Regions from separate parts of the Homo sapiens genome. Here regions 1, 2, 3, 4, 6 and 7 are each linked to region 5. The links come from fine-mapping of genetic effects on gene expression. A gene starts in region 5. Each other region holds a variant in brackets. All regions are shown on one strand. Distances are from middle to middle. Region 1 has its middle 11 kb from the start of SLC9A8. Region 2 has its middle 49 kb from the start of B4GALT5. Region 3 has its middle 12 kb from the start of PTGIS. Region 4 has its middle 25 kb from the start of SLC9A8. Region 5 holds the start of B4GALT5 (beta-1,4-galactosyltransferase 5). Region 6 has its middle 19 kb from the start of SLC9A8. Region 7 has its middle 39 kb from the start of B4GALT5.

Region 1 (4,067 bases), 88 kb before region 5:
AAAAACTTCATTTTAACATGTGCAATTCAGTGGGTTTTAGTGTATTCACTATGTTATGCAACCATCACAACTGTCTGATTCCCAAACATTTCTGGCACCCCAACAAGAACCTCTGCACCTATCAGCAGTCACTCCCTGCTGCCCCATCCCCTGGCAGTCATTACTTTATTTTCTGTCTCTATGGATTTACGGATTCTGAACATTTCATGTAAGTGGAATAAAATCTGTGGCATTTTATGACTGGCTTCTTTCACTTAGCACAATGTTGTTTCTTTTTCAAATTTACTTCCTTGTGACCTGTCATCCCCATTAGGCTCACAGGGGGTCTAGTACCTAGACTAGCACCTGACATAAATCATTAAGTATGGATTAAGCACCTACTATGTGCTATGTCCACAGTAGCACAGAAAACTCCAAGGAAACTGCCTTTTTTATTTTATGTTTTTCAGAATTTTCAATTATTTCTTCTTCTAATTTTTATTTATTTTATTTTATTTTTGAGACAGGGTCTCACTCTGTTACCCAGGCTGGCATACAGTGGCACAATCACTGCTCACTTTGGCCTCAACCTCCTGGGCTCAGGTGATCCTCCACCTCAGCCTCCCAAGTAGCTGAGACTACAGGCACAACCACTGTGCCTGGCTAATTTTTGTATTTTTTTGTAGAGGCGGGTTTTCGCCATGTTGTTCAGGCTGGTCTTGAACTCTTTGGCTCACGGGATCTGCCAGCCCGTGTCTCCCAAAGTGCTGAGATTATAGGAGTGAGCCACTGTCCCCGGCCCTTTATTTATTTTTTATTTTTTTATTTTTGCAAACTTTTTTTTTTTTTTGAGATGGAGTTTCACTCTTGTTGCCCAGGCTGGAGTGCAATGGCGCGATCTTGGCTCACCGCAATCTCTGCCTCCTGGGTTCTCCTTGCCTCAGCCTCCCAAGTGGCTGGCATTACATGCGCCTACCACCACGCCCAGCTAATTTTTTGTATTTTTAGTAGAGATGGGGTTTCACCACGTTGGCCAGGCTGGTCACGAACTCCTAATCTCAGGTGATCCACCCGCCTCGGTCTCCCAAAGTTCTGGGATTACAGGCGTGAGCCACCGCACCCTGCCCAGGCATTTTCAATGAAGGGGAAACTTTCTCCATAACCTCTATTTTCCCCTCAGTAATCCTCAAGTCTTCCCGGTACACCCTCAACACAGGTGATGGGCTAAGGGTTCATAGACGGTTTGGGGAAGTCTCCCCTTTTCTAACTCAGCAGACATTCAGCTGTCTCTAGAGAGAGCCACAGTACCTCAGCACGAAGCCCTTAACCAAAACTGAAACAAAAGAAAAGTCCCATTACACACCTGTTTCTAAGGGGTTTTCCCGTCTCTTTGCTTCTTATTCAAGACAAATCTGTGGGACAGTTAAAATATTTGCCATAAATAAAAAGATATAGGCTGGGCGCGGTGGCTCATGCCTGTAATCCCAGCACTTTGGGAGGCCGAGATGGGTGGCTCACGCGGTCAGGAGATCAAGACCATTCTGGCTAACATGGTGAAACCCCGTCTCTACTACAAAAAAAAAAAAATTAGCTGGGCATGGTGGCGGGCGCCTGTAGTCCCAGCTACTCGGGAGGCTGAGGCAGGAGAATGGCATGAACCCGGGAGGCGGAGCTTGCAGTGAGCCGAGATCACGCCACTGCACTCCAGCCTGGGCAACAGAGCGAGACTCTGTCTCAAAAAAAAGAAGGGGCCACAGGACAAGGAATGCAGGAAGCTTCTAGTTGCAGAGAGAATCGCAAGTAAGGAAATGGGGGCTTCAGTTCTACAGCTGCAAGGAACTGAATTCTGCCAACAATCTGAAAAGAGTCCAATTCCTCCCATAGCCTCCAGATGAGGACTCCAGTGAGCTGACATCTCTGCTTCAGCCATGTGATGCCCTGAACGTATAACACAGCAGAGCCTGCATGAGCTTAGGACCTACAGAACTGTGAGCTAATACATGAGTATCACTTAAAAGGAAAAATAGATATATTCACCTTGCTGCCGTCAGTCCTCAGCTGAAAGTGGGTTTGCTTTGAGTACCCCAGGG[C/A]GGGCCAGCTCTCTTGGGCCAAGGGGTAGACAGAGAGGCTGATTGGGAGTTAAGAACCCAGACACTGGAGCCAAGCTTCCGGGGTTCAGATCTCAGCACTGCCACTTACTGCCTCTGTCATGTTGGGCAAGTTAACCCCCTTGTGCCTCAGTTTCCCTGGTATGTATTTCAGAGTATTATTTTTGGGTGAAGTGAGCTAATATTCAGAAGTTCTTTTTTCTTTTTTTCTTTTTTTAAGACAGAGTTTCACTCTTGTTGCCCAGGCTGGAGTGCAATGGCGTGACCTCGGATCACTGCACTGCAACCTCTGCCTCCTGGGTTCAAGCAATTCTCCTGCCTCAGCCTCCCAAGTAGCTGGAATTACAGGCGCCCACCACCACGCCCAGCTAAGTTTTTGTATTTTTAGTAGAGACGGGGTTTCACCATGTTGGCCAGGCTGGTCTCGAATTCCTGACCTCGTGATCCGCCCGCCTCGGCCTCCCAAAGTGTTGGGATTACAGGCGTGAGCCACCGTGCCCAGCCTATTCAGAAGTTCTTGAAGCCATGTCTGTCTGGCACATAAGTACTTCATGGATGTTTCTTAAATAAAATAACCTCCCCCAGTCAATATATATGTGCATAATGGGGCGATTGCTTCAAAGTAGGGCTGAGCCCTTCGTTGCTTCTCCTGGGTTAGAAATACCAGTTGTTAGCCTGGGCAACACAGTGAGACCCCATGTCTACAGAAAAGAGAAATAAATAGTCAGGCACGGTGGTGTGCACTTGTAGTCCCAACTACTCAGAAGGCTGAAGTGGGAGAATAGATTGAGGCGGGAGAATAGATTGAGCCTGGGAGGTCAAAGCTGCAGTGAGCTGTGATCGCACCACTGCACTCCAGCCTGGGTGACAGAGCGAGCCCTGTCTCAAAAAAAAAAAAAAAAAAAAGAAGTACAAGTTGTGGTGACATCTAACCGCATATTTTCTTGTCTAATTTAAAGCCCAAAAGGGAAGTTTCTCTCTATTTCCTAGTAGGGGGAAACTAGAAAAAGCCCAATTATCTAGTAATAGAAGAATAAGTGCAGGCACTAAAAAGGATGACTCATATCTATGGGTATTAACTTGGGAGGGGTCTCTGCTCTGCCTTAGCAATGTAGTATAGTGGTTAACGTCATGGGCCTTGAAGCCAGATTACTTGTTTCTGAATTCCAGCTTGGCCACCTTGTGTGATCTTGGGTAAATCACTTAACTGCTCTCTGCCTCAGTTTCCCCATCTATAAAATTGAATTAATAATAGTGCTTATCACACAGGACTACTGTAAATATAAAATGGATTAATACACAGAGAGCAACTAGCATATGCATTGTACATACTCAATAAATCTTAGGATTACTGTTAAATAAAAAGATAGCACAGGTTCACTTTAGAATTAAGTACATGTGTATGCATTTAAAAAATCTATGGGCTAACTTACAAAATGCTCCAAAATTATGACTGTTTTTTATTCTATTCCTCACACTTTTCTGTATTCTCTGAAAATGCTTTTTCATAGTGATGAGCCAATACTTTTTTTTTTTTTTTTTTTTTTTGAGATGGAGTCTCGCTCTTGTTGCCCAGGCTGGAATACTACTTTTATAATCAAGAAAAAAATTTAAGTAATTCCCTTTGAGGGTCGGGAGCTTAATAAACAACTTTGCCCTCCAGCGTTGAGACCATCCATGAGTTATTTGCCCAACCTCATCTTCATGTGTTTGAGGATTGTTTTTGCCTTGGAAATTCTTGAACAGGAAACCAAGTCCGCTCCCTGTAAATCAGGATGGGCCTGTTAAAGGCTTTACTGGAGCGAGGAGGGGCGGTCCTCCTTCTTCACCCTCTCCTCTGTATTTTGGGGTAGGAGGGAATGACTCACCCTTCTTTTGGTTTGGCCATTTTTTCACTCCCAGTTTTTTTCACCCCCAATTTTTCAACGAAGTGTGGGAAACAAACGTGGCCCATCCGATCAATAGATCTCCATGCATTCG
Region 2 (4,067 bases), 48 kb before region 5:
GTAATCCCAGCACTTTCGGAGGCCGAGGCGAGCGGATCACCTGAGGTTGGGAGTTCGAGACCAGACTAACCAACGTGGAGAAACCCCATCTTGACTAAAAATACAAAATTAGCTGGGTATGGTGGCACATGCCTGTAATCCCAGCTACTCGAGAGGCTGAGGCAGGAGAATCACTTGAACCCAGGAGATGGAGCCTTCAGAGAGTCAGACCGCACCACTGCACTCCAGCCTGGGCGACAGAGCAAGACTCCTTCTCAAAAAAAAAAAAAGAAAGAAAGAAAGAAAAAGAAAAACGCCTAGACCTGGAATTTGCAGGGGAAAGAGCAAGACTGTCTCAAAAAAGGACTTAGAGGATCAGAGAAGAGTCACCAGTCAGATTGAGAAACCAAGCACATCCAACTGCTGGAGTAAAACTGCAAAAGGGAGGTGGTGGAGAGGTCTCTGGGAAGCAGTTCTTTGTGAGTCTACAGCCAAGAACCTAGTCATGGGCCTAAGCCAACTTTTGGAAAGCAGGCCAACAGTTAGAAAAAAGAGCTAGAGGTCAGGCGCAGCGGCTCACGCCTGTAATCCCAGCACTTTGGGAGGCTGAAGCGGTTGGGTCACCTGAGGTCAAGAGTTTGAGACCAGCCTGGCCAACAGGTTGAAACCCAGTCTCTACTAAAAATACAAAAGTTAGCCGGCATGGTGGTGTGCGCCTGTAGTCCCAGCTACTTGGGAGGCTGAGGCAAGAGAATTGCTTGAATCTGGGAGGCGGAGGTTGCAGTGAGCCGAGATAGTGCCACTGCGCTCCAGCCTGGGTGACAGAGCAAAACTACATCTGAAAAAGAAAAAAAGCTAGAGGTAGTATAGGAGAGAGCAGAGAGCAGTCCTGAAAACAGACAACCATAATCCAGTTTGATAGCTGTTTCAACAGGGTAAACACAAAGGTGCAATGGGAGCCCTAAGGGGTTTCAGAATCCAGTCTAGAAATCAAGGAAGGTGGTTGGGTGCGGTGACTCATGCCTGTAATCCCAGCACTAATGGGAGGCCAAGGCGGGCAGATCACTTGAGCTCAGGAGGTTGAGACCAGCTGGACAACATGGTGAAACCCCGTCTCAACTAAAAATACAAAAATTATCTGGGCATGTTTGTGGGTGCCTGTAATCTCAGCTACTCAAGAGGCTGAATCGTTTGAATCCAGGAGACGGAGGTTGCAGTGAGCCAAGATCGCACCACTACACTCCAGCCTGGGTGATAGAGCGAGACTCCATCTCAAAAAAAAAAAAAGAAAAGAAATCAAGGAAGGCCTCTTGGGGGAGAAAACATTTGAGTTGAGACCTGACGAAGGAGGAGACAGCCACATGAAATGGGGGAGGAGGGAGAGAAATTAGCATACGCAAATGTCTGGAGGTAATATAGGATATTGTCAGAGGTGTTAGAACCAGAGCGACTCCATCTGGAATAGGGGCTGGGTAAAATGTGGATGAGACCCAACGGGCTTCATTCCCAGGAGGTTAGGCATTCTTTCTCACAGGTTGAGATAAGAGGCCAGCAGGATTCCTATCACAAGATACAGGTCATTGAGACCCTGCTGACAAAACAAGAGGTAGTAAAGAAGCAGGTCAAAAGCCATCCAAACCAAGATGATAACAAAATCGACCTCTGGTTGTCCTCACTGCTCATTATACACTAATTAGCATGCGAAAAGACACTCCCACCAGAGTCATGACAATGTCCAGAAGCTACCCTATATGATCTAAAAAGAAGAGAAACCCTCACTTCCAGGAGCTCCCCAACCCTGCCCTGGAAAACTCATGAAAAATTCACCCCTTGTTTAGCACATAATTAGGAAGTATCCATAAATACACTCAGTCAAGCAGCCCATGCTGCTGCTCTGCCTACAGAATAGCCATTCTTTTATTCTTTTACTTACTTTTTTTTTTTTTTTTTTGAGATGGAGTCTCACTCTGTCGCCCAGGCTGGAGTGCAGTGGTGCGATCTTGGCTCATGGCAACCTCGGCCTCCTGGGTTCAGGCAATTCCGATACCTCAGCCTCCTGAGTAGCTGGGATGACATGGGCGCACAACCAGGCCCAGCTAATTTTTTGTATTTTTAGTAGAGATGG[G/C]GTTTCGCCATTTTAGCCAGGCTGGTCTTGAACTCCTAACCTCAGGTGATCCCCCTGCCTCAACCTCCCAAAGTGCTGGGATTACAGGCATGAGCCACCGCGCCCGGCCTTTATTCCTTTACTTTCTTAGTAAACTTGCTTTTGCTTTACTCTGTGGACTCATCCCGAATTCTTTCTTGTGAGAGAATTCTTTCTTGTGGTCTGGATCAGGACCCCTTTCTAGTAATAATATTAGGCAATTAAAAGTAGTTCAGTCTGGCTGGGGAACAAGTATGAAGTAGGAAGGGTCATGGGTGATGGCAGGGGACCAGGAGGTGCCAGATCTTGCAGGTCTTTATCAGTGAGGAGTTCAAACTCTGTCTTAAGAGTACTGGGGGGGTGGCCGGGCACAGTGACTCACGCCTGTAATCCCAGCACTTTGGGAGGCCAAGGCGGGTGGATCACCTGAGGTCAGGAGTTCAAGACTAGCCTGGCCAACATGGTGAAACTCCGTCTCTACTAAAAATACAAAAATTAGCCGGATGTGGTGGCGGGTGCCTGTAATCCCAGCTACTCAGGAGGCTGAGGTAGGAGAATCACTTGAACCCAGGAGGCAGAGGTTGCAGTGAGCGGAGATCGCACCACGACACTCCAGCCTGGACAAAAAGAGCAAAACTCTGTCTCAAAAAAAAAACTGAAAAAGTACTGGGGAGCCATGGGAGGGTTTGAAGCAAGGGAGAGGTAAGTATTGTTGAGGAAAAAAGCCAAACTCCGTAAAATATTTGAAGAAGTTTATTCTGACCCAAATATGAGTGATCATGGCCCGTGACACAGCCTCAGGGGGTCCTGAGGACATATGCACAAGGTGGTCAGGTTGCAGTTTGGTTTTATACATTTTAGAGAGATGGAAGTCACAAACAAAGACATAAAGCAATACATGAAATGTATACATTGGTTCAGCCTCAAAAGGCAGGACATCTCAAAGATGGAAGCAGAGGGACTTCCAGGGCATAGGTGGATTCGAAGATTTCCTTATTGGCAATTGATTGAAAGAGTGAAGCATTGCCTGAGGAGTTGAAGTCAGCATAAAGAAATGTTTGAGGTCAGGTGCGGTGGCTCACACCTATAATCCCAGCACTTTAGGAGGCCAAGACGGGTGGATCGCTTGAGCCTAGGAGTCCCAGGCCAGACTGGGCAACATGGAGAGACCCCTGACTCTACCAAAAATTAGCCCAGCGTGGTGGTACGCACCTGTGCTCCCAGCTATCAGGAGGTGGAGTCAGGAGGATGGCTTGAACCTGGGAGGCAGAGGTTTCAGTGAGCTGAGATCACACCACTGCACTCCAGCCTAGGTGACAGGGTGAGAACCCAACTCAAAAAAAAAAAAAAGAAAGAAAAAGAAATGCTTGAGTTAAGGTAAGAGAGTTGTGGAAGCCAAGGTTCTTGTTTATGTAGATGAAGCCTCTAAGCACCCAGCTTCAGACAGGATAGATGGTAGATTTCTCTTATTAGACCTCAAAAGGTGTTAGACTCTTAGTTTAATTCTCTCCTGGATCAGGAAAAGACCTGGAACAGGAAGGGGATTCGCTACAGAAGGCAAAGAGTGGGCTTTGCAGGGTCACTCCAAAATATGTCAAATAAATATATCTTGGGGTAAAATACTTTGACTTTCCTTAGGGCCTGTTATCTGTCACTGTTATGCTCTACATCACATACAGGGTCAGGTTGGAATTTGGTATCTTATTGCACAAAGAGTCTGTTTTGTCCATCTGATGATCTGGTTTTTTGTGTTTTGTTTTGTTTTTTGAGATGGAGTCTCGCTCTGTCACCCAGGCTGGATTGCAGTGGAGCGAACTCAGCTCACTGCAACCTCCACCTCCCAGGTTCAAGCAATTCTCCTGCCTCAGCCTCCCAAGTAGCTGGGATTACAGGCGCCTGCCACCATGCCTGGCTAATTTTTGTATTTTTGGTAGAGACGGGGTTT
Region 3 (4,067 bases), 130 kb after region 5:
AAGGTAGATAAGATTGCTTAAAAAACAAACTCTGATAGGTCAGCTGGCTGTTGCGCTGTTAGTCTTTGCTGGGGGACCAGGCACTTCTTAAGATGGTTTCTCCTCCTGCAGCTGGCTAGCCCAGGTTTGTTCTCATGGTGGCTATCCAGAGTTCCAACAGAGAGGGGAGAAGTGAAGAAGACTCTTGAAGCCTAGGTTGGAAGCAGGCACAGCATCACTTCCCTTGGATTCCAGTGGTCAGAGCAAGTCTCAAGGCCAAGCCCAGATTCAGATCATGTGGAAATAAACTCACACTGCAAAGGGCTCGGATGCAGGAAGGTCATTAATTAGGGCATCAATGTGAGAAAACTACCCTAGTCTCTACCTCCAGATCTAGAAGTGGGAAGGCGACGCAGGCCTGACCGATATGAGCTAGAGAAAGAAGTAAAGGGATTTGCATCTGACCTTAATAAGGCCAACCAGAGTTAGTCCCAGAGTCTCCTTCTGCTGGCATCACCAAGCTGCCAGGGCATAAGGACTGCTAAGGCTATCTTGATACAAAACAGGGAGAGGCTGCCTGAGGGAGAAGCCAATACAAAGGAAAGCATTGCTTAGAGAGAGAAGTGAGTCCTGGCAACATCCATGGAGCCCCTGGATCCTGCCATTCCTGAAGCTGTTTTTCTTCCCAGTTCCCTGAAGCCAGGATTTCCCACCACTGGACTTTCCCTGCTTGAGCCATTAAATTATTGTTATTATTATTGTTAATCAGGTAGAGAGAGAGAGAAAGAGTTTTTCCTTTTGGGATCAAGCGCCATGGTCAATTGGAGCACAGATGCCTCTGAATCTTGCCTTATGACCAGGAATGGGAATACACAGTTAATAGGAGCAGAGAAAAGGCAGGCCTCGAAGTTGAACATCCTGGAATCTAATGCTGCCTCCGTTACTTGCAAGCTCCACAATGTTGGTTAAGGGAGTCCTGATTCTTTCCATCCAGAATGGTTATGAGGATTCAAGGAGCTTGCGTACCTATACGGCTTTGTGCAGAAGGGACACTCACTAAATGACATTTCCTAACCTTGACCTCTCTCCTCGGAGCTCAGTTTCCCTGTTACCAAAGTGGTGTTCAGGCAGAAGCTTCTTGAAGAGGAGCAGAGGAAGGTGGGAAACTGATCAATGGAGTTTGTCCCTGAAATACCCCAGGGGAAGCCTGTCTTGCCTAAATAGACAGTTTAAATGATTAGCCTGGCTTAAGATTTTGTATTTCTTCCAGTGTGAGGGCTCATGACCAACATCATACCATGGACACAGAGCAGTAGCAGGGACTTTTGTGGTTTTTATTAAATGCCACACCCGTGTGTACATATGTCCCTTAAAGGAAACTGAGACTCAGAGAAGTTAAGTGACCTGCCTGAGGTCACATAGTGGCAAAGCCAAGATGTAAACCCAGGTTCTCTGGCTCCAGCATGTCTCTTGCTCCTAATCACTGAACTAGATGACATCCATGGAAAATGTAAAAGGCTCATTTTTCTTTGCATATCTGAGTTCAGAGTAAGGAAAAGTTCAACTCCAACACACTAGCATATCTATGTAAACAGACCCTTAATTTTTGTGTGCAGGAAGGAGCATTCCAGGACTTATAAACTAGCTATGCTTGGGCTGTTTCCAGGTCTGGACATATTTTATTTGGTCCACACAGTATCTTACATACCGGAAAAAATGCACATTGGAAAAATAAGCCTTTCCCCCACTAGCTTCTCTTAAAAACCATAGGGCTAGAGCTGAGCAGTGAGGTTGGATTTGAAGGGGGAGTCTGTCCACTGTAGGGGGAGGGTGGGGAGGAGGCTT[C/G]GACCCCTGAATACAGCTCAGTCTGAGGCAGTTTCCTGCGCCCTGGGGAGACCCCATCTGGGTCCTGGGTTTCCCAGGAGGCGGCCATTCACTCCAACAGGGAGAACAATGCCCTCCTGTTCCCCTGCCAGCCTGGAGTCCTGGGAGTGAAGAGAGGCAGCCTGGGCCTCTGACTGGAGCCCAGACTCCACCATTCCCGGTTCTGTGGCCTTGCCTTCTGTCTGGGCTTCCCATTCCTCATCTGTAAAATGCGCACACAGCCGTCCCTGCCCAGCTTTCAGCCCTCCCACCCCACTTTCTGACCCGCCTTTGGGGGATCATCCTTCCCACCTTGTTTGGTTGACCATCAAGGTCTGTGGGCAGGCACATGACCCAAACATGGCCAATCAGACTTTCTCGTGGGAGAATCAGAAACTGAAGCGGAAGGAATGCTGAGATTGGAAACAGCTGGAGCCCCGAAGACCTGGCCACTGGTTCCTGCTCCCCACACCCCTGGCTCCTGCTCCCCGCGTTCCCGGAGCTGCTTGTTCCTGTCCTTTCCAAGTCCCAGCTGGTCAACTTTTCCTTCCAATACCTCGTCCCCACCTTTTCTTTTTCTTAAATTAGCCAGGGTTGGTTTCTGAGGCTTGAACAAACCCAAGTACTCTGCCTGATGCCAGCATGACAATTTCTGCTTCTAAAGCTGGTATGAGGGTCAAATGCTATGCACTAGAGTATAAACTGTGAAGTGCCATCCACATATGAGGAATTGTCCAGGCACTGGCACATCGCAGTTATGAACTTGGGCCTCAGAATCAGAATTTGATTCCCAGCTCCACCCCTTTCTTGCTGTGTGACCTTGGGCTGCTTGCTTCCCCTCTTTGAGCTTCAGTTTCCTCACCTGGAAAGTGGAGATGATACTGGTATTAAGACCAGCTATATACTTTGTGGGTACCAGAGTAAAGTAAAATCATGGGGACCCTTGTTCAAAAATAATTAAGAATTTCAAGCTGGTGACAGGAGAGCGCTAAGCCGAGCATGAGACCATTCTGGGTGCAGGGGCCTATGTGAGCACCCAGGTTGCATGTCCATGAAGCTGGCCCTGACTGCATAGAGCTTGCTGCGAATGGGGCATCTTATCCAGGCTGGGCAAGGAGTGCAAAGCTGTGTCACTCTAATTCATATCTGGTTGCCTCCCAGAAAGCCCTGGAGAAGGTTTACGAAATGAGAATGTAATAAGGTTTCATCCATTAAGCACCAGGTATGAAACAAGTACTTCACATACTACCTTATTCAGCTTCAGAATGGAGAACTTTCTTCTATTGCAAGTGAAAGAAACTCAACCCAAATTGGCTGAAACAAGCAAACAAAAATAATTTAATGGTTCATGTGGTCAGGAGCATTCTGGCTTCAGGCATGGCTGAATCCGGGGGTTCAAATGATATCTCAAGAAACTGTATTTCCCTATCTCTTGGTTCTGCTGCCCTGTAAGTCGGTTTCATTCTCAGACATGCTATCTCCAGGCAGAGGCAAAAGTGGTCCCCCAGTATCCTGCCAGGTCAGAAATCACAGGCAGAAGGTCCTTCTGATCACCAAATAAATGGTTAGGGAGACAGAGAACTCTCTCCAGCGTGTCTGGTATTAGTGGAGGGAGGTTGGGAGGCTGTGAAAATAATGCTAATAGCCCACATTTATCCAAGGCTTTCCATACTTCCAGAGATTAACTCTTTTCATCCTCACAACCAACTCCATTTGACACCTGGGGAAACAAAGGCACAGATAAGCAATATGCCTGAGGCCTTTTAAGTGGGGGGGCGGGTGCCAGGCTTTGAGTTCACATAGTCTGGCCGTGGAGCCCAGGCTCTCTCACTCTAGCCCTCTGCGGACATGCAGGACATGTAGACATTTGGGCTATGTGATTGCCTGTGCATCAGAGTTTGGAGCTGTGAACCATGAGCGTGGCTGAACATCCACCAAAGATTTCTATTTTTTTTTTTTTAAAGCAGTGAAATGTTTGTGTGTTTGAGATGAGATTTTTTTTTAGACAGCATCTCACTCTGTTGCCCAGGCTGGAGTTCAGTGGCGCGATCTTAGCTCACAACCTCCGCCTCCCAGTTCAAGCGATTCTCCTGCCTCAGCCTCCCAAGTAGCTGGGATTACAGGTGCCTGCCACAATGCTCAGCTAATTTTTGTACTTTTAGTAGAGATGGGGTTTCACCATGTAGGCCAGGCTGGTCTTGAACTCCTGACCTCAGGTGATCCAC
Region 4 (4,067 bases), 74 kb before region 5:
AACCCTGCTGGGGAACTGTGGGACACAGAGTGCAATACACCTCAGAATTATCCAGGTGAAGGGCAAGGGAGTGGGGACATTTATCCACCAGCCCCTGTCACTCATTGGTTAAGGGCTGCTTGTAGGGGAGGGTGAAGCCCCCAGCATTCTCAGACTGTGTATGCAGAGCGTATATGAGAGCAAAGCCCTCAGGCTGCAAAGATAGGCGTGGAAATTTGAAGCCATCCACTCACTGTGGGTCAAAAGGATGAATGCCAAGGGGATATGGACACAGAAGCCACGTCATCTGCTACAGTGACTTAAGTCCAAAGAGGAACCATATTGAGGATGGGCGCGGTGGCTCATGCCTGTAATCCCAGCACTTTGGGAGACCAAGACAGGTGGATCACTTGAGGTCAGGAGTTCAAGACCAGCCCGGCCAACATGACAAAATCCTGTTTCTACTAAAAATTCAAAAAAGTTAGCTGGGCGTGGTGATACGTGCCCATAGTCCCAGCTACTCAGGAGGCTGAAGCAGGAGAATTGCTTGAACCCGGGAGGTGGAGGTTGCAGTGAGCTGAGATGGTGCCACTGCACTCTAGCCTGGGTGACAGCGAGACTCCATTTCAAAAACAAAAAACAAAAAAACAACAAAGAGGAACCATATTGACTCATGGAGAATAACATGTTCAGGAATATGTGGCTGCCTTCAGGTACAGCTGGATTCAGGGGTTCATAAGTTATCAGGGCTCAGTCTTTCACTCTCACAATGGTGGCTACCTTTGAGCTTCAGACCCTCTTCATACCAGCCTAGCGCAGCAGAAGCAAAACAATCCCAGCAAAAACCTGAGGGATAACTCACTGGTCCACTTGGGGCAGGTGCCCATTTCTGAGCCAATCCCTATGGGCAGAGAAATGAGGGGTGCTGATTGGCCAGCATGGAGCATTGGCCTTCCTGGAACCAAGGATAAAGTTAGTGCTGCATGCCTTTCACATGGACAGGGAGTAAAGAAGGGGGCTCCCAGAGAAATTAGGATGCTGTTATGATAGGGGAATTCATAGTGAGTAGACAAAACCAAAAGGATAGATGTAATCTAAATCCCCACTCTGCAGACAAGGAACTACTACCTTAAAAATATACAATAAAATATTTTTTATTATCTATCCCTAGGTAAGGGAAGGGCCTTGTCCCAGCTCATTCAGTTAGCAGCACCCAGCTTCCTGTCTTCACCTGGTGTCTTTTCTTCTGGAGCAGGTGGTCTCCCAATAAACAGGGTTTGTTTACCCAACACAAACACATTAGTGTCCTTCCTGTCCTAGCTTCTTCTCCCAATCCACACTCAAGGTGACTCTACTACATATATTCCTGTTTTTTGTTTTTAAGAGACAGGGTTATGCTCTATTGCCCAGGCTGGAGTGCAGTGATGTGAAGAAGCTGGGACTACAGGCATATACCACCACACCCAGCTGATTTTTTTTTTTAAACTTTCTGTAGAGTTAGGGGTCTCACTATATTGCCCAGGCTGGTCTCAAACTCCTGGCTTCAATCAATCCTCCCGCCTTGGCCTCCCAAAGTGCTGGGATTACTGGCATGAACCACCCACTGTGTCTGTCTACTTCCTGCTTTTGTTAAATTAAAAAAAAAAGAACATATTTATTTATATATATATATATATATATATATATAGACAGAGAGAGAGAGAGATGAGACAGATATAGCTATAGATAGATAGATAGATAGATAGATAGATAGATAGATAGATGTATACACATATGTTGAGATGGGGTCTTGCTCTGTCATCCAGGCTGCAGCACAATGGCGCAATCAAGGCTCACTGCAGCCTCAACCTCTCAGGCTTAAGTAATCCTCCCACCTCAGCCTCCTGAGTAGCTGGGGCTACAGGCACACGCCACCATGCCCAGCTAATTTTTTTAAAAAATTGTTTTGTAAAGGCAGGGGTCTCATTGTGTGGCCCAGGCTGGTCTCGAACTCCTGGCCTCAAGTGATCCTCTCACCTCAGCCACACCTGGCTTAAATAAATATTTAAATCCCTATTTTCAAGACAGAGAAACTGAGAGTTTAAACAAATGATGTAATGCTGGGGTTGACATGAGCCATGTGGGCATGTCGGGGAACAGTTCTTCACTGGCTATAAGTTAGTCATGTGGCTACCCCTAGCTGCAAGGAAGGCTGAGATAGGTAGTAAAGCCATGGGAAGCCATGTGCCAAGCTAAAAATCAGGTATACTCTTACTAGGAGAGAGAAGACAAGAACACAAATTAAGGGATCATTTGCAATCTTTGACCAAAACAACTGACTCTGAGATGATCCATAAAAGGTAACTGCTATTGTTGTCTCTTTTTTGAAAAACTCAGAAGGTATATTTGTTTTTGTTTGTTTGTTTCTGTTGAGACAGAATCTTGCTCTGTCACCCAGGCTGGAGTACAGTGGTGCAATCTCGGCTCACTGCAACCTCTGCCTCCGGGGTTTAAGCAATTCT[C/T]CTGTTTCAGCCTCCCAAGTAACTGGGATTACAGGCGTGTGCCACCACACCCGGCTAATTTTTGTAGTTTTAATAGAAACGGGGTTTCACCATATTGGCCAGGCTAGTCTTGAACTCCTGACCTCAACTGATCCACCCACCTCGGCCTCCCACAGTGCTGGGATTACAGTCATGAGCCACCCTGCAGGGCCTCAGAAGGTATATTTGAAAGATGCGCATAAATGCTGGGTACTGATATCGTTCTGCACTGGACTTTGGAATCAACAAAATAGAGTTTAAATTTTTATTTCATGCCTTCCTGGGCTGTATGACGTTAGGAAAGTTCCTTAACCTCTCTGAACCCTGCTTTCATCATTTGCTAAGCAAGGATAATGGTATATTACTCATCAACGGCTGGGAAAATCAAATAAGACAATGGACATAAAGTTGAAGTATAGTATTCAGTCCAAAGAGGGTGTTCAATACATGGTCATTTTATTGATAAGGAGTGTATGCTGGGTTAGAACATGAGCTTGGAGATCAGAGAGACCTGGCTTTAAATACAGACCTTCACTTCCTGGCTGAGCAAATTATTTAACCTCTCTGTGCCTCAGCCTCCCAATATTTGAAATGGAAGCAGTAACAGTTCCAGCCCACTGGGTGGCTGAAGCATGAAAGAATGGATGGCACATTTTATTTTATATTTTATTTTATTTTATTTTATTTTATTTTATTTTTTGAGAGATGGAGTCACCCTCTGTCATCCAGGCTGGAGTGCAGTGGCACGATCTCTGCTCACTGCAACCCCTGCCTCCCAGGTTCAAGCGATTCTCCTTCCTCAGCCTCCCAAGTAGCTGGGATTACAAGTGCCCACCACCATGCCCAGCTAATTTTTGTACTTTTAGTAGAGATGGGGTTTCACCATGTTGGCCAGGCTAGTCTCGAAATCCTGACTTCAAGTGATCCACCCGCCTCGGCCTCCAAAATGCCCGGCCAGATGGCACATTTAAACCAGTCAAGCAAGTATGCTTTCGCTTTATTTTGTGTTATTATTAGGTTCCTTTTTCTCTTTGAGGGCATGGAGGAAGAGACAGGGTCAAAAGGCTGTTGCTACAAACATACAAAGTTTGTAGTAAGTAAGTCTTACACAAAAGAATACGTGTTATGTGCTGCCATTTCATCAAGTTCAAAAAACGGCAAAAATCATCACTGCTGTTGGAATCAGGATAACGGTTATCGCTTAGGATGGGAAAGACTTGAAGGGAGCTTCTCCGGGGCGGGGAATGTTCTGTTCCTTGAGCTGGGGGCTGGTTACCCCGCTGTCTGCCTTTGTGAAAATGTATCGAGCCATCGCTCCCCTGTGCACTTTCCTTATTTGTGCACTTTTCTGTATGTCTGTTACACTTCAATAAAAAAGTTTTCCCCCAAAAGTCTCTGTGGTCTGTTGGAAGCTGGCAATGGCCAAGGGGCTGAGGCGCACAGGTGGGGACCCTTCCTTGCTAGCCACCGCAGTTTCTGTTTCAGCTTGAGGTACAGCAATCAACTTCCTCTTCAGATGCATGACTTGCTGCTGACCTCTAGAACCTCTGGCCACAAGGCTCCTCTTGC
Region 5 (4,063 bases):
GCTGGGATTACAGGTGTAATCGCCCAGCCTACCTTTAAATATTTAGCAAAAAATAAAAATTTTCAACATATGAATATAGATACATACATGTGGAAAAATGATAACAATGATCAAATCCAGGTGGGGAGTGTACAGATGTTTCTTGTACTATTCTTTCAACTTTTCTGTATGTTTGAAAATGTTTCATAGATACGAGGGTTGGGAGGGGCCATTGTGTGGGCCAACAAAAACTATTTGCAAGTTAGATGATTCCGGCTAGTCTGGGATTTCTGGTCCAGGGCCTTACCTGCACTATTTCATCGAATCCACATCACATCCCCGTGGGGTGGGCAGCACTGGGTCCGATTCACAGGTGATGAATAGAGAAGCTCAGAGAGGTAAGTGACTTTCCCAGAGTCACACAGCCAGGAGATGCCAAGCCGAGATTTGAACTCACATCTATCTGAGTCAAAATTCTCTGCTTTCCTTTTTGATCGTTTAAGCCTCTTCTCTTCCACCATACCATTCTCCAGGGGTATTGAATTAGGTGACAGCTAAGCACTCTTACTATGTGCACTTTGCATGTATTACTTAAATCCTCGCAACAACCTGATGAGGTTGCTAATAACCTCCTCCATTTTACCGAGGCACAGAGAGTTTAACTTGCGTGAGGTCACACAGCTAACAATGGAAAAGCTGGGAGTCAGAGAACCTGGGCAGTGTGGCTCTAGACTCCCCACTTAAAGGATCAAAGAAACACTGTAAAAAGTAGAAATCACTTTAGGAATATAAATCAGAATTATTGTTGATTCTCACAGAATCCCTGCAAAGTCCTCTCCCCTCCCCACTGCTTCTGGCATTCCAAGACAGTACCCTAGTTTCAGATATGTCTACACAGGGACACTGGCCTCCTCAGTCCAGCTCCTTGAGGCTACTGCTTCTTGCCATAAATTTCTAGGACTGTTCATTGCCTTCTGAGGTCCTTTGAGCTGATGCTGATCTGAAAGCATTTTTTTGGATATGGTCCCATACCCAGGTGATGGGGATAGGATACCGATTTGCCTGCAGGATAAGAATTAGAGGTCATACAGACTGCTGAGACAGTTACAACCTAGAGGTCAAGGGCCTGACATGGGAGACAGGCCAGTTTTGATTTAAGCCCTTACTGCAAGGCTTGGGTGAATTGCCTTTCCATCTAGAAACCTCAGTTTCCTCATTTGTATGATAGTAATAATAACAGCACACATCTCAAGACTGGTGGGGGAATTTCATGGCATGAGTGAAGTCCATGTTTCTCAGCAGAAGTCTAGAGACATTGACAATTGTTATCATTATGCTATTTCTGATACAGTAGGATCCCTGACTACAGCTCCAAGCTCATCCCTATTTCCCCCCCTACTTCACTGGATTTTATCCATGTTGGCCTTGGATTCAACTCGGGGGCAGATCAGCCCTTTTCCTACCTCAGGGCCTTTACACCTGCTGTTCCCCCTGGTATGACTGCTTTTTCCCCAGCTTATTCAAAAAAGCTGGCGCTTTCTCACCCTTTTATATCTCAGTTCGTGTCACTGCTCAGTGAGGCCTTCCTTGACCACTCCAGCCTGCCTGCAATACATCCTCCTGTTTTATCGTATTCATATGTGTTACCAGTACCTGATATTACTAGCTGATTTGTTTCTTTTATCTCTCACATAATGTAAGTTTCAAGTAGACAGAGATTTTTATCGTTTTTTTTCTCTGTAGCATGCCCAGCGCCAACAACTGTGTCTGGCATTCAATAAATAAATGGTGAATTGAATGAATGAATGAATGAATGAATGAGGGTGTATACCAGGCCGAACCCCCAAGCCTTGCAGTCCCCACTCTTCTGCTGCAGTGGGCAACGAGATGAGTCAGACTTTGTAGATGGCCCCTTGGCCCCCGAGATGGGGGACGAGCTAGCGCGGAGCACTTGGGAGACATTCCCCGAAAGCCTGGGCGGTGGCCGCACTGGGAGAGGGTCTGTCGCCATTTGGCGATTACTCCATGCGGGCTGCTGTGGGCGCCGAGCGAGGGTCGGCGGCGAGCGCAAGCGCGCGGGTCTTTTGCGACGGTGCCCGGCGGCACTGGCCCCGCCTCCCGCGCGTGCGCCCCGCCTCCGCCCCCGCCGCTGCGCCCGCTCGGGGCCGCTCTGGCCCCCGCCCGCTTCATGTGGCCCGGCCCGCGACGGCCGGCGGCTGGGAGCGGCGAGGCGGCGGCGGCGGCGAGTGGCGGCCCGCGAGGCCCGGGAGGCGGTGGCCGAGGCCCAGGCGGTGGCGGCGGCGGCCCAGGAGGCGGCGGACGGGGAGCTGCGGGAGCAGGCCCGGCCTGGCTCTCTAGCGGCCGCCTGGCTGCAGCATGCGCGCCCGCCGGGGGCTGCTGCGGCTGCCGCGCCGCTCGCTGCTCGCCGCGCTCTTCTTCTTTTCTCTCTCGTCCTCGCTGCTGTACTTCGTCTATGTGGCGCCCGGCATAGGTAGGAAGGGGGCTTGGGACCGCGGCGGCTGCCGCTCTGGCCTTGAGGGACCCGGGGAATCCCCGCCCCTCCCTAAGGGGCCCCGGCCGGGAGGCGGCCCTGAGCCTGGTCCTCCGAAGACTCCGGAGTCCTGGCCCGGCTCTCGGGGACGCCAGGACATTCCTGCCCTCCGCACCCCAACAGGCGCCCGGGATCCCTCTCCCGCGCCAGCCTCCGGCCCACCCCGCCCCTCCTAACGCCACCCTCGCGAACCCGACTGTACCTTCACGCCCGCCCCTTGCTCCGGAACCCCCTTCCCGCTCTTGCCTCGCTGGAACTCCCACTTCCCGCTCCTCTGCTCGAGAACTCCCGCTTCCCCTTCCCTTCCCCGGGGTCTCCTCGAACCCCCATTCCCGGCATTCCCCGCACCCCAGTCCCCCGCGGCGCGCCCGCTCTTCGCCGAGCCCATGTGCCCGGGTCCCAGGCCGCCCCACCTTCTAGCTCCCATCCATCCTCCCCCACTCCCCATGACTCCATCGTTTCCTGCTCCCGTGAGCCCCCTCCCTCCCCTTTCTTCCTCTACTTCCCCTATTACATCCACCTCCAGGTCCTCCTCCCTAACTCACGTTCACCTCTTCAGTGGCCTGATCTCTCTGCCTGCCGGTGGCACCCCCCTTCCCCTTACAGAGGTCCACCCCCATTCAATCTCCTGCTAATCCCCTGAGCGTCCCATGCCTCTTCCCCATCTCCCCCCCCCCCACCTCGCGTACCCACAAGGGCACATCCTTGTCACCTTTGCCCCCAGCCCCCCAGACTTTCAGCCACAGCTTCTTTCTCAACTGAAGACCTGGGGAAGGGGTGCTGTCTGTGTTCTTTCTTCCACTTCTGCCCTCTCCTAGCCTTGAGGGTAGATGGTGTGGTTCTTCAGTATTGGATAGTGCCTGCTCTGCGGACAAAGGAGAAGTTTAAATTGTCCGTAGAGAAGGGGATATGATTGGGGCCTTTGGGAAATGGTACCAGGTGAGAAGGGGGAGCATGGAGGAAAGATGTAATGGGTACTCCTTCTTTTCAAAGTCTTATCCTTTAAAGGAAAGGCGGTCTCTGGAGAAACTGACCCTCCCACCCCTCCCCCGCCTGCCCCAAGCATAGTCTTTTATAAGACCACAGGGCACCAGTTAGGACAGGAAGAGATCAGAAGGAAAGACAGCATGAAGGTTAAGAGCGGAGGACACAGAGGTCAGACTTGGATTCCAATCTCTGCCCTGTATGACCTTGGGCAGGTTACTAAGCCTTTGCATTTCTCCTCTGTAAAATGGGAATGTGAGTCCCAATCTCATACAGTGTTAAGGATGGAAGTAGATACATGTTCTTTAAAAGCACTTACCACTGTACCTGGTGCTTGAAGAGTTTTAAAAATAAGTAAATAAAGGCAGCTATTACATGTAACTTCCAGGAAGAAGGGAGTTAGGTGGAACGCTTAAGGAATGTGTTTGCCTGACTTGGCATCACTATGAGGAAACCTCAGTTTATGGTGAAAAATGATCAGAAGATGCTGCTGGGGTAGGGGCAGGGAGAGTAAATTCTGCTAGAAAAATTTTGGATTATATGGATTTT
Region 6 (4,067 bases), 80 kb before region 5:
CCATCTCAAAACAACAACAACAACAACAACAACAACAACAACAATTGAGGTCTTTCTTTTTTGCTTTTTTTGTTTGTTTTGTTTTGTTTTTGTTTTGAGATGGAATCTCGCTCTGTTGCCCAGGGTGGAGTGCAGTGGCGCGATCTCAGCTCACTGCAAGCTCGACCTCCTGGGTTCACACCATTCTCCTGCCTCAGCCTCCTGAGCAGCTGGGACTACAGGTGCCCGCCACCACACCTGGCTAATTTTTAAATATTTTTAGTAGAGACGGGGTTTCACCGTGTTAGCCAAGTTGGTCTCGATCTCCTGACCTCGTGATCTGCCCACCTCAGCCTCCCAAAGTGCTGGGATTACAGGCGTGAGCCACCACGCCCGGCCTGTTTTTTTTTTTTTTAAGAGTCAGTCTTGCTCTGTTATCCTGGCCGGAGTGCAGTGGTGTGATCATAGCTCACTCCAGCCTCCAACTCTTAGCCTCAAGACATCCTCCCACCTCTTCTTCCCCAGTACCTGGGACTACAGGTGCATGCCACCATTCCTGGCTAATTTTAAAATTGTTTGTAGAGATGGGGTCTCACTATGTTGCCCAGGCTGGTCTTGAACTCCTGAGCTCAAGCGATCCTATCGCCTCAGCCTCCCTAAGTGCTGGGATTATAGTCATGAGCCTCAATGTCCAGCCTGAATTTGAGGTTTAAAAAATTCACACAGGGAACACATCACCACTGTAGAAAAAATTTAGAAATATAGGCACATAATAAGATAACATAATTCAAAAATCTCATCAATAAGCCAGCTGTACAATTTTTGACAATTATGCTCAATCTCTTCATGCCTCTGTTTCTTCTAAACAGAGTGATCAGGAAAGTCTCTCTGAGGAGGTGGCATTTGAGTTGAGGCCTGAAGGATGAGTTGGAGCCACTACGGGAAGAGTGTTCCAGGCAGAGGAAGCAGCACATGCAAAAGTCCTGAGGTAGAAATGAACTTGGCCACTGAAGAGACAGGAGGACAGCCAGTGGGGTTCATGAGAAACAAGAGACAAGGAGAGTCGAAGGAGATGAGATCAGATCATGAACTAGATTAGGGTCAGATAACAGAAGAGGAAATGAGCTTGAGGCAAGAGGGCCACTGTGCGTGCCCAGCACAGCACAGACGTGGGCCAGTGACTTAAGCAGAAGCTTTATTCATCAGCATTGGCCTCCCAGGAGGAAGAGAGGGTGAGAGACGTGAAAGACACCACCAGTCAGTCTGGCACTTTTTTTTCTTTTTTCTTTTGTATATCGAACACCTCACAATTTTTTATGTCATTCTTGCACAGGGGCCATGCTAATCTCTGTATTGTTCCAATTTTAGTATATGCGCTGCCAAAGTGAACACTTTTTTTTTTTTCCCAAAGACAAGGTCTTGCCCTGTCACTCAGGCTGGAGTGCTGTGGTGCAATCGTAGCTCACAGCAGCCTCGACCTCTTGGGCTGAAGCCATCCTCCCATCTCAGAGGCCTCTTGAGTAGCTGGGACTACAAGCATGTGCCACCACGCCCAGCTAATTTTTAATTTTTATTTTGTAGAGATAGGGTCTCACTACACTGACCAGTCTGGTTTTGAACTCCTGGGCTCAAGCAGTCTGCCTGCTTCAGCCTTCCAAAATGCTGAGATTACAGGCATGAGCCACCATGCCTGGTGAGTCTGGTACATTTTTACCAAGTGCGCTCACTGTGCCAGGCCCCGCCCCAAGTCCTGGCCTCCAGGCATACTTGCAGAAAAGATCAGAAACTCAGGGACAGCCAAGGCTAGAAAGAGGCATTTTTCTGAAGAGGATGCTTGATTGGCCAAAAAATGGATGGAAAGGTCCTCAAGGTCCCTTCTAAGCAGGCAATGCAACTTAAAGCACTTAGAGACATTTCACAGTCATAAACTGGCAGCAACTTGAAAACCAGAAAATTCCAAGGCCTACAGGAGTGATGAACAGCCCAGGCTCTGGAACCAGCCTCTCTGGGTTCATGCCATGCTCTACTATTCCTAGCTGAGTGACCTTGGGCTAGTTATTTGCCCTCTCTGTGTCTTCATTCTCCATCTATCTAGTGGAGATGATGATAGTACCTCACCTCAAAGTTTTTTGAGAGGTTAAATGAGTTATTTCATGTTAGATGTTTAGAAAGATGCCTGGCACATAGTAAGTGTCATGTGGGGTAGTGGTATTATTTTCATCGGTAAGGAAGTGCAGAAACAAGAACTCTTCATGTACTGCTGCTTGGCAGTTGAAACGTATGAACTCTG[A/C]GACCAGTGATCCCACTTCCTGGTATTCACCCTAGAGAAGCTTCAACATATGCAAAGTTGGGTGTGGCAGCTTTGCCTACAATGGGTCCAAAGTGCAGTGGACTAAATAGGCATCCATGGGATAGTGGGCAAGGAGACCATGACATGTTCCTGTAAAGGAATACTAGTGAGCAATTAAAATCAATGAATGGTGTGGCTCGCGCCTGTAATCCCAACACTTTGGGAGGCCAAGGCAGGTGGATCACCTGAGAGGTCAGGAGTTTGAGACTAGCCTGGCCAACGTGGCAAAACCCCGTCTCTATTAAAAATACAAAATTAGCCAGGTGTGGTGCCATGTGCCTGTAGTCCCAGCTACTCAGAAGGCTGAGGCAGAATCGCTTGAACCCAGGAGGCAGAGGTTGCAGTGAGCCACTGCACTCCAGCCTGGGTGACAGAGCGAGACTCTGTCTCAAAAAAAAAAAAAAAAAAAAAAAAACAATGAATGAATGGCTGGGCACGGTGTCTCACGCCTGTCATCCCAACATTTTGGGAAGCCAAGGTGGGAGGATCACTTAAGCCCAGGATTTCAAGACCAGACTGGCCAACATAGTGACACCCCATCTCTAAAAAAGAAAATAAAATGAATGAACTAGATCTAAACAGATCTTAAACATACAGTAATGTTGAGTGAGAAAAGGGACTTGCAGAAGTTAACATTTAGTATGATACCGTTTGTGTAAATATTAAATCCACAAAACAATGTCATATATGTAGTAATAACAGGGTGATAATGAAATATTTAAGAACCGGCATGACCTAGGCACTGACCAGTCAGAACAGAGGCTGGCCACATGGGTCCCAATGGGTGGTCCACACTTCCATCACTCCTAGGATGAAGATGTGGCTTCTCCACGCCCACCAGCACTTCTACCTTCGCCACACCTGTCCTGTTCATTCTATGCCTTATTAGCATTAGCTGTGTGACCTCAGACAAACTGATTCATCTCTCTGGGCTTCAGCTTTTTCATCTATAAAATGGGAATAATAGTAGCAAAAGCTAATACATACACAGCATTTCCCATGTGCCAAGCACTCATTGTAACCCTCATACTAACTCTTTGTGGTAGGTTCTATGATTACTCCCATTGTGCATATGAGGAAACTGAGGCACAGAATGGCTGAGTAATTTGCTCGTGGTCTGGAGAACCTTAATTACAGGGTTGTTGCAAATACATACTAAATGATACATGTTAGCAGCTTAGAAAAAAGTCTGGCACTGAATAAGTGGTCAATAAATATCAGCAGGCAGGGCACGGTGGCTCACACCTGTAATCCCAGCACTTTGGGAGGCCACGGTGGGGGGATTACCTGAGGTCAGGAGTTCAAGGCCAGATTGGCCAACATGGCGAAACCCCATCTCTACTAAAAATACAAAAAATTAGCTGGGCGTGGTGGCAGGCTCCTGTAATCCTAGCTACTTGGGAGGCTGAGGCAGGAGAATCGCTTGAACTGGGAGGCAGAGGTTGTAGTGAGCCAAGATCACACCATTGCACTCCAGCCTGGGTAGCAAGAGTGAAACTCCATCTCAAAATAATAAATAAATAAATATTAGCAGTTGCTATTATGTCACTGCCTTACTCATAAGCATTCAGTGGTCACCACTGGCCTTAGGAGACAGTTTGAATTCCACATCATGGACCACAAGGTCATGGTCTATTCCCTTACCGCCCCTCTTCCTTCCCTCTGTTCCCCTTGTTCTCTGTTCTCCAGTCAGAGAGAAGTGGGCTTCTCTCACTTCCTCCTGCACCCCTCACCTTCC
Region 7 (4,067 bases), 39 kb before region 5:
GCTGGAGTGCAGTGGCACGATCTCGGCTCACTGCAAGCTCCGCCTCCCGGGTTCACGTCATTCTCCTGCCTCAGCCTCCCGAGTAGCTGGGACTACAGGCACCCGCCACCACGCCCAGATAATTTTTTTGTATTTTTAGTAGAGACAGGGTTTCACCATGTTAGCCAGGATGGTCTCGATCTCCTGACCTCGTGATCTGCCCGCCTCGGCCTCCCAAAGTGCTGGGATTACAGGCGTGAGCCACTGTGCCCAGTCACTTTTGTGCCTGTTTTTTTATTTTTATTTTTTAATTTGAGACAGGGCTTCTCTGTTGCCCAGGATGGAGTGCAGTGGTGCAATCATGGCTCACTGTAGTCTTGACCTCCTGGGCTCAAGTGATCCTCCCACCTCAGCCTCCCTAATAGCTGGGACTACAGGAACACACCACCACCACTCCAGGCTAGCTAAAACAATTTTTTTTTTTTTGAAGAGATAGGGTTTCACTATGTTGCCCAGACTAGTCTGGAACTCCTAGGCTCAATCAATCTTCCTGCCTTGGCCTCCCAAAGTGCTGAAATTACAGGTATGAGCCACCGTGCCAGACTTTTGTGTCTTGATACTGGGTGAGTCAGTAGCATGGGCAGAAGGAGTATCCTGGAAGCCATTTCTCTGCCAGGACAACAAGCAATACTTTCCTTATTCACCGAAAAGATCGTGAGCTACAAGACTACATCCCGCTAAAGCTGCGTGCAGTGGTGCACACCTGTAGTCCCAGCTACTCAGGAGCCTGAGGTGGGAGGATCACTCGAGCCCAGGAGCCCAAGTCTAGCCTGGGCAACACAGTGAGACCCCCACCTCTATTAAAAAACAAAAAAAAGATTACATCCACTAAACCCAAATTTAATGGATTCCCTAACTCATCTTCCCCTTAGCTGATCCCTGCCCATAGCTCCCCAAATGCCACCCGATGCACATTCCCAGGCAGGCAACGTTGGGGAGCTGGAGAGACCTTGTCTAACCAGTTGCAGCTAAAATACTTACCTTTGCAGATGTTGCAGAAACACATGACTGTGTGAACATATTGCTAGATTTGGAAGGGGCTGTGCAATTGAAGAGCCCTGATCTCAGCTTTGCTTCATTCACTTAATGGTGGATCTATCTCTAGATTTTCAGAAAAGCTGGACAGGACTATGTGATGAATCAGATGTAAAAAGTGAGTGAAAGGCCAGGCGTGGTGGCTCATGCCTGTAATCCTAGCACTTTGGTAGGCCAAGGCAAGTGGATGACTTCAGGTGAGGAGTTCGAGACCAGCCTGGCCAACATGGCGAAACCCTGTCTCTACTAAAAATACCAAAAAAAAAAAAAACCAAAAAAAAAAAACCTGGGCATGGTGGCACACACTTGTAATCAGCTACTCCAGTGGCTGGTGCGCAAGAATCTCCTTGAACCCAGGAGGTGGAGGTTTCAGTGAGCTGAGGTGGCGCCACTGCACCCCAGCACCCCCCAAAAAAAGTGAGTGAAAGAGAGAAAAATCCAGAATTATTTCAGTGTATTTTTGGCTTGAGTAACCAGGTATTTAGTAAGGGAGAAACAGGTTTGGAGGGTGAGGAATCATAAAGTTTAATTTTATTAGACAGGCGTGGTGGTGTGCACCTGCAGTCCCAGGAGGCTGAGGTGGGAGGATTGCTTGAGCCTGGGAAGTTGATGCTGCAGTAAGCCAAGATTGCACCACTGCACTCCAGGGCAGCGGAGTGAGGCTCTGTCTCAAAATAATAATAATAACAATAAAAGTTTAATCTTAACCATGTTAAATTTGAGATTCTTACTAGACATTAATGAGCAGTTGGACACAGAAATTAGGCATTTATTATCTCCACAGTTCTTAATAAGTAAATCTTGCATCTGTAGGTTTTTTTGTACTTAGTCAAAGCATCCCAATAGTTACAATATTTGCATATATGTGTGTACTATATTATACACACACATATATACTTCTATTCATCCATCTATCTCTCTACAATTTACCCGGAAGATGATGCATGAAACTAGTCATAGTGCCTGCCTCTGGGGAGGGGGGACTGTTGGCTACAGGATGGAGGTGGGAGGGAGG[C/T]GGGAAGCATACTTTTACTCTGCTTGAATAAAGAACTGGAGACTAAGAGGAAACTTACTTAAGGTCACAGAGCTGGTGGGTAGCAGGGCTGCCATTTGGGCTGAGGTTGGCCTGGTCCCAAGTCCAAGCTCTTTCTGTTCTGACAGGTTCTCTCTCCTAAATGTATACCTCCAGGATCAATGCTGTCTTTCTTGCTGCCTCTCCCTGGTCTGGCTCCTCTGTGTGTCTCACTGCGGCATCTCCTGTGGCTGAGCATTAATAACTGGCTAAAAGGATTCCTGCCTGTGGCCAGGAAAGGCTGGGTGCACTCTTCTTCCCCTCCATTCTGGAAATCATCTATGTAGCCTGTGGCTACAGCTGCAAGTGAAAATAGTGCTGGAAGGTTCCCAGAAAACACACCTGCCCCAAATGGACCAATTTCTCCTGCCTTCCTTTACTTAAAGATTAGAGATGTTCAGAATTCTGGTCACAGGCCTGGGTTATAACTGCTGCTCTTTCACTGCTAATGGTGCTGTGTGTCCTTGGGAAAGTTACTTACCTTCTCTGTGCCTCGATTTCCTCATCTACAAAATGATATTAATAGCAGTAGCTATCTCACAGGACTGTGGTAAGGGTCAGTGAGCCAGCAGGTGTAAACTGCGTGGCTCTCTGCCTCTCTGGCACACCATCAGTCAACAGGCATTGCTCCCACCCCACACATGCCCTTCCCCCACAGTGCCTTAGCACATGGAGTTCCTTCTACCTGGAATGCCTTTCCCTTCCCCTCTTATTAGTCTAACCGTCTAATTAATGACCACTCACCCTTCAGAGCCTCCAACATTTTACTGTAACATTCACAAAGACAGGACTGCTTGTGTCCCAACACCCAGCACACATGGTATTTGGCATATAGTTGGCATTCATTAATTGTTTATCCATTGAGTGAGTGAATGACTAAGTGAATTAATAAGGTGAAAGATCAGTTAATGCTCACTCATTCAATATATGTTCTGTAAATGAGGATAATAAATACCCATCTGACTGTATCATTAGGCTTAAAAATGCTGCGCATTTAGGTCAGGCACAGTGGCTAACGCCTGTAATCCCAGCACTTCGGGAGGCTGAGACGGGTGGATCACTTTGAGGCCAGAAGTTTGAGACCAGCCTGACCAACATGGTGAAACCCCCGTCTCCACTAAAAATACAAAAAATTAGCTGGGCGTGGTGGCACACGCTTGTAATCCCAGCTGCTCCGGAGGCTGAGACATGAAAATCACTTGAACCCAGGAGACAGAGTTTGCAATAAGCCAAGATGGTGCCACTGCACTCCAGCCTGGGGGACAGAGTGAGGCTCTGTCTCAAAAACAAAGAAACAAAAAAGCAAAAATGCTGTTCATTTAAGTGTCTAGAGTGATACCTGGTCAGCAGCACTGAATAACATTTATTATTAGTGCTATTTTATATTATTATCATTTTAAAAATTTTTTGTCGTTTTTGTGGAGACAAGGGGTGTGGGGAAGGGGTTGCCAGGTTGCCCAGGCTGGTCTCAAACTCCTGGGCTCAAGTGATCCTCCTGCCTCTGTCTCCCTGAGTGCTGGGATTACAGCTGTCAGGCACCACACCCAGCTATGATCATTATTATTATTTCGCACAGGTGTTCTTGCATCTTACTGGTGGGCTTAGGCGTTCTTGGCCCTGCTCTCATGGACAGGCCCCTTCAGAGCTTCACCTTGGCAGCTGGATGCACTTCTCTGTCCAAGCAGCCTCAGCCTCCAGATGCAGGAATGTTCCTGTCTTGGGGAAACAAATTCTTAGCTTCAGGCCTGACTTCTGCCTGGCCTTGGCTTCAGTTTCTTTGTAGATAACTTCATTCAGCTGCAGAGCATCATGGACATATCGTGTGGTTTCTGCCCAGTTTGTGGTGACCCATCTCTCTTTGAAACAGGTGCAACTACCCCATGAAACCACGCGTACAAGCTACTCAACCCTGCCCTCCAGC

The links.
Region 1: its variant is fine-mapped to the expression of B4GALT5 in whole blood (TOPMed, PIP 0.99).
Region 2: its variant is fine-mapped to the expression of B4GALT5 in whole blood (TOPMed, PIP 0.96).
Region 3: its variant is fine-mapped to the expression of B4GALT5 in whole blood (INTERVAL, PIP above 0.99).
Region 4: its variant is fine-mapped to the expression of B4GALT5 in whole blood (TOPMed, PIP above 0.99).
Region 6: its variant is fine-mapped to the expression of B4GALT5 in whole blood (TOPMed, PIP above 0.99).
Region 7: its variant is fine-mapped to the expression of B4GALT5 in whole blood (TOPMed, PIP above 0.99).

The regions. Positions count from the first base shown.
Region 1 is chr20:49,799,914-49,803,980 of GRCh38, reverse strand. No RefSeq gene overlaps it. Among named protein-coding and RNA genes, the nearest start is that of SLC9A8, 11 kb to the left of the region's middle. RefSeq lists an enhancer at 911-1,040. The variant C/A (reference allele first, on the strand shown) is at 2,070.
Region 2 is chr20:49,760,480-49,764,546 of GRCh38, reverse strand. No RefSeq gene overlaps it. Among named protein-coding and RNA genes, the nearest start is that of B4GALT5, 49 kb to the right of the region's middle. RefSeq lists an enhancer at 3,956-4,067. The variant G/C (reference allele first, on the strand shown) is at 2,105.
Region 3 is chr20:49,578,221-49,582,287 of GRCh38, reverse strand. No RefSeq gene overlaps it. Among named protein-coding and RNA genes, the nearest start is that of PTGIS, 12 kb to the right of the region's middle. RefSeq lists an enhancer at 1,594-2,168. The variant C/G (reference allele first, on the strand shown) is at 1,825.
Region 4 is chr20:49,785,898-49,789,964 of GRCh38, reverse strand. No RefSeq gene overlaps it. Among named protein-coding and RNA genes, the nearest start is that of SLC9A8, 25 kb to the left of the region's middle. RefSeq lists an enhancer at 4,043-4,067. The variant C/T (reference allele first, on the strand shown) is at 2,481.
Region 5 is chr20:49,711,983-49,716,045 of GRCh38, reverse strand. B4GALT5 (beta-1,4-galactosyltransferase 5) reads left to right here and starts at 2,168. Exons shown (of 9, transcript NM_004776.4): 1 at 2,168-2,470. The coding sequence starts at 2,356. RefSeq lists silencers at 1,956-2,285, 2,576-2,695.
Region 6 is chr20:49,792,115-49,796,181 of GRCh38, reverse strand. It overlaps the pseudogene RNU6-919P. Among named protein-coding and RNA genes, the nearest start is that of SLC9A8, 19 kb to the left of the region's middle. The variant A/C (reference allele first, on the strand shown) is at 2,270.
Region 7 is chr20:49,751,301-49,755,367 of GRCh38, reverse strand. No RefSeq gene overlaps it. Among named protein-coding and RNA genes, the nearest start is that of B4GALT5, 39 kb to the right of the region's middle. The variant C/T (reference allele first, on the strand shown) is at 2,090.